Linked DNA regions of Homo sapiens: region 2 is linked to region 1. The links come from fine-mapping of genetic effects on gene expression. A gene starts in region 1. The other region holds a variant in brackets. All regions are shown on one strand. Distances are between the middles of the regions.

Region 1 (3,014 bases):
GGGCTCAGCTGCCATGTTCCCTGAGGCCTTTTCAGCTCCTATGGGCTCTGAGGTGCAACTGGTGCTGATGCCTCCCTGTCTCCACCCTCTCATCACCCTCCCAGCTATCCTCTGTCCCCTTCATCCCCACGATCCTTCCCCACACTGCCAGCACTGGAAGCCACAAGCCCCTTCCCCACCTCTGCCCACCCAGTGGCTGTCCGGGCCACTGCCTGGGCCATGCCCTTCCCATACCCCTTCTTCCTTTCAGGACCTCCTTATTTACCCTCCGAAGGCACTGCCAAACAGGTCTTTGCCACTCCCCACCACACCCCATCTTCGACAGAGGTTCTGGGCCAAGCCTAGGGGCTGCCAGAGATGCCTACACCCCTGGGCCAACAACTTATCATCCAGCTGTTTCCCAACAAGTATATAAGTCAACAAACATACAGGGACTTGAGCCAGGCCTGGGGTGGGCTGATGTGGAGCTGGATGGCCAGGACATCCCACTCCTATGAGCAACACTCTGGACCTCCTGCCACCCTTTCCCTCACCCCCAGAGTGGGCCCTGACCCCAATTCCAGAAGATTCCTCTGGCCTTTCACTCCACCCAGGACCCAGATGCTGGGGCTGGGAGTGGAAAAGCTGCAGGAGGATTGGGGGTTTCAGGCCTGAGAGTGACCAGGAGAGAGGACGCCAACACAAACAGAGCCCCAGGAAAACATGCATGTACACGTCTACACACACCCTCTCAGTGCTAGACAGAAGCATTCAGACCCTCTGCACAGCTCCAAGGAGGGAAACAGCAGCTCCTGCAAAGGCACCCAAGGCCCGGACAAATAGACCAAATAGACAGGGACATTCCACCCACAGGGCCAGCTCCTCCCGCTCCCGCTCCAGAGACACACACAAATACCTCTGGAGAGAGAGAGGCTCACACCTGTCTCCCCCAACCCTGCTTCTGAATGCACCAAATTCATGCACGTGATGGCACGTGTACAGGCAGCCCCCAAACCCACCCCAACTCTGGGCCGGCCCTGTCCTCCCCACCCCATTAGATCCGGAGAGGAAAGACAGGAGCCACGTGAATCTACAGTACATCATGGCAGGGCACATTCCCCTTCTCCCTCACAGGAGCGCTCACACATCCACAACCTCATACCCCAGCAACTGCACAGCGGAGCTGTGGATACAGTCCCCCACCCCCTGCAAGCTGGCACACGCCTGCCCATCACCTTGACAGCCTCTGACATCCTCCCCCACACCCACACCCTCCCCCGCACACACGCAGTCCTCCCACACCCTGCCACTCACACCTGCATCTTTGACACTCTGACACACTTACACAGACACACTCACACCACACCGGACCCCCCAAAACACACTCCCTGGCTATGGGCACCACAGGGCCCCGGCACACCCCTGCACACTCTCCCTGCCACGATGACTGACACGTGTCCTCCCACACACAACTCGGTCACACTCGCTCCCTTTCCAGGACACCCCCATTCACAGCGTGACAGGCTGGTACTCTCCCCACGACCTCGCAGGCCTCTCTGAAACTCCCAGTACCAGGACCACGAAGGGGTTAAAGCCAGAGTCCTGCCTCCCCGCTGCCCCTCTCCCCCTCCCTCCCCCTTTATCCTCTCTGCTGGACTCCATCAATAATGCAGCTTCAAGTTCTGGGGAGACCGCAGGGGGCCCCCCAGCTGGCTCCCCAGGCCTTGGCTCTAACTCCCACCCTCCTCCCAGCCCCAGGAGAACACGATTCTCCATGCTCATTGGCCAGTTTCCCCTAAACCCTCCCTCCGAGCACCCGGGCGCCAGTCCCAGGCGGAGGGGACGGGCTGGGGACCCCAAAGCTGGGACCGGAGGGTGAGCCCGGCAGAGGCAGAGACACACGCGGAGAGGAGGAGAGGCTGAGGGAGGGAGGTGGAGAAGGACGGGAGAGGCAGAGAGAGGAGACACGCAGAGACACTCAGGAGGGGAGAGACACCGAGACGCAGAGACACTCAGGAGGGGAGAGACACCGAGACGCAGAGACACCCAGGCCGGGGAGCGCGAGGGAGCGAGGCACAGACCTGGCTCAGCGAGCGCGGGGGGCGAGCCCCGAGTCCCGAGAGCCTGGGGGCGCGCCCAGCCCGGGCGCCGACCCTCCTCCCGCTCCCGCGCCCTCCCCTCGGCGGGCACGGTATTTTTATCCGTGCGCGAACAGCCCTCCTCCTCCTCTCGCCGCACAGCCCGCCGCCTGCGCGGGGGAGCCCAGCACAGACCGCCGCCGGGACCCCGAGTCGCGCACCCCAGCCCCACCGCCCACCCCGCGCGCCATGGACCCCAAGGACCGCAAGAAGATCCAGTTCTCGGTGCCCGCGCCCCCTAGCCAGCTCGACCCCCGCCAGGTGGAGATGGTAAGGGGCCCGTGCCCCACCCCGGCAGCGTACCCGACACACCCCGCGGGGCTTCTTCGCCCTCCCAAGGCGCTGCCCCGGCCGGACTGGCCTGGGGGTGGGGGCGCAAGGAGAGCCGGGCTCTGCCTCGGTCAGGACGGGGCGCGGGGCCGCGTGTGAAGTTAGCTGGAGACTCGTGCAACTTTTCCCCGCGGCTTTGGTCCTGATCCCGGGGCAAGAGAGTTCCTGGCAGTGAGGCTGGGGGTGCGGGGGTGGGGGGACAGGCCGATTCCAGACCGCCCAGGAGTGGGGTGGGGGCGTCCTTTGGTCCCAGCACAGTCCCCAAAGGGTAGTCAGTCTCCTAGGCTACCACCGGGACCGCTCCGCCTGGCTCTGTCCCAGAGCTGGTCAGATGTGAGCAGCGGTGGACACTGACCTTGTCACCCAGGGCAGGAGTATGAGGCTGCCACCGGGTGAATCCACTACCCTGCCCCTCTCTAATCCCGCGTGTGTGCCTGGGCTGGGGTCTCCAGAACCTGGCTCTGGCCTCCTGCTGTCAGGCCCCAGAGCCCCAACCCCAAGGAGGGAGAGGTGGGGAGTCATCACAAAGCCAGACCTCTTCCCACAGACTACTGAGTCCTCCTGAGG
Region 2 (2,500 bases), 29 kb after region 1:
CATTCGTTTGTTCGATCATTCATTCATTCATTCATTCATTCATTCAGCAAACATTTTTTGAGTCTCTGCTGTGTCCCAACCACTGTGCTAAAACCAGACGCTAGCCAGGTGTGGTGGTGCACACCTGTTGTCCCAGCCGTTTGGGAGTCTGAGGTGGGAGGATTGCTTGAGTCTAGAAGTCTGAGGCTGCAGTGACCCATGATTGCACCACTGCATTCCAGCCTGAGTGACAGAGTGAGACCCTGACTCAAATAAATAAGTAAATAAAAGCAGAGGGCACAGTGGGAAGCAAAACAGGAAAAACTCCCAGTTCCCAGTGGCTCTAATGAGATGCTGCCGGGCAGCCTGGAGACCAGAGCTGCCCCACCCCCACCCCACGCAGTGCTTGGCCCACCCTCAGGAACACAGTCTAGTTGGCAGTGGCCTGATCTGGTCTCCAGGCAGGGCCAAGCCCACATAAGCAGGAGCCCTGGAAGCAGGGCACCCCAGGCTCAGTTCTGTCCCAGCTCCTCCTCGGCTTTGGCCCGATGACCTCAGCAAGGGACTCAGCCCCTTGAGTCCTCCCCTCGTTTTCCTTCTGCAGCATGGGCTCCCCATCAGACTTCCGGATGGCAAGGGCCCTTCCTCCAGGTCTCATGCTTATGTGACAAGAAAACAATGTCTTGTTAATAGAGGTGATGAGCTCAGAGAAGGGGCCAGCTCCGGGCAAAGAGATTAAGTTTGATTCTGGGCATGTTGAGCTGGAGGGAGAGACAGGGCTCTGAGGGTGACTGTCGATTGTGCACCAGAGATGAGCTGGCACCTTCAGTGAGCTGGAGCCATGGCCATGGATGGCCCTAGGGGCCATCTTACCCATGAAAAAGCTGTGGCCCAGCAGGCTCAGGACCTTCTGCAGAGCTTCTAAGGTCTTAGGCAGACTTCCTTTTCAAGGTCCCATCCAACATCAAAGCAAACACTAAAACTTACCTGCATCCTTCA[T/C]TGAATACTTGTTTCCTTACCCAAAAAGAGCTGAAAAGATTTTGATAATTTTACTTTCGTTTTGTTTTGTTTTGAGACAGGGTCTTGCTCTATTGGCCAGGCTAGAGTGCAGTGATGTGATCATAGCTCACTGTAGCCTCCAACTCCTAGATTCAAGGGTTCCTCCCACCTCAGCCTCCCCAGTAGCTGGGACCACAGGTGCATGACCACATTTGGCTATTTTTTTTTTTTTTGGTAGAGATGGAGTCTCACTATGTTGCCCAGGCTGGTCTCAAACTCCTGGGCTCAAGTGATCCTCCCATCTCGGCCTCTCACAGTGCTGGGATTAGAGGCATGAGCCACTGTGCCTGGCCTCTGTAATTGTGCTTTTGAAGTTATTTGGCTGTGTTGGCTGCGATTGCTCTGCAGTCCTCATGCGTACCTGGGAATTCTTGCAAAGTGAGAAGATCTAACTTACTAATTGTTTTCAGATGTCATGAAACATTTCAGAATCCTGCACTGAACAATTAGTAGAGTCCACATGATGTTTCCCTTGGCAGACATTTAATTAAAATTGTATTGATTTTCAGTCTTGTAGTTTTACTTTTGTATTTGGGAGCATATATTTTTAGTTCGCTGACAGACTGTGTCTGTGTTGCCCAGTGGTTACAAGGACTCAGTAGGGTCGTGCTGAGCAGGGGGTTTGGAGCCAGAGAGTGGCAAAGCAGGGGCTGAGACTTGGCTCTCCCGAGTCCTGATCGGTCAGCACCGGTGGGTGCCCAGGCTGGAAAGAGGAAGGAGGACAGAGCTCTGAGGCCTAGTGACTGAGGGTGGAAGGGGCTGCAGAGCCCAGGGCAGAGTCTGAGGAGCAAGAGGAGTGCTGGGTGGTGTGGGTTGGGTGGGATGGGGTGGGTGGGTGGCAGGCCTGGGGGCCTCACCGGCAGCCAGAGGAGAGGTGGCATCAGATTTCATGGAGCTGGGGTGGGCTTGAGGAAGAGGCACATGGTGGGGCTGTGTGCTCAGTGGGGGAGCATCTGTATCTTTAACAAGCCCCCCCAGATTTGGCTGCCCTGCTGGAGAGCGGAAGCCCCAGTCTAGGCGGTTGTGAGGGGTCTTCCTCTCCAGGGCTCCTGGGCTCCATCGCCCAGAGTCCCTGTGTCCTCCCTTCTCCAGGGTGGCTGGTGCCCCACCTGAAGGAGCCTAGGCCCGTCACCCCCGTCATTCCAAGGAGTCAGGTCGCAGTCTGGCCTGGTGTCCATCCAGTTCCCTCAAACCTCTGGACATTGGAGTCAGGGCCAAGGCCTCAGGGGTCCTGGTGAAAATGTCTGGTGGGCTGGGGTAGGGACAGGGGCAAGGACACATCCACTCCGTCTCCACTTCACCCTCTCAAGCAGCGTGATGGATTTTGCCCATTAAGCATAAACCTAATCAATTGATTTGCCACCTGAGGCTCCGTCTGACACCACTGCCCACCCCCACCCCCCATCAGCCCAGATGGATTATGGCTGGGAAGATGGAGCACCGCAGTGCTGGGAGGGAGATG

The links. PIP is the estimated chance that this variant, and not a neighbour inherited with it, causes the effect.
Region 2: its variant is fine-mapped to the expression of PPP1R1B in whole blood (TOPMed, PIP above 0.99).

The regions. Positions count from the first base shown.
Region 1 is chr17:39,625,087-39,628,100 of GRCh38, forward strand. It overlaps PPP1R1B (protein phosphatase 1 regulatory inhibitor subunit 1B), which reads left to right and starts at 1,866. Exons shown (of 7, transcript NM_032192.4): 1 at 1,866-2,387. The coding sequence starts at 2,307.
Region 2 is chr17:39,654,153-39,656,652 of GRCh38, forward strand. The region is part of intron 2 of STARD3 (StAR related lipid transfer domain containing 3); the gene reads left to right. Among named protein-coding and RNA genes, the nearest start is that of TCAP, 9.9 kb to the right of the region's middle. RefSeq lists an enhancer at 1-411. The variant T/C (reference allele first, on the strand shown) is at 979.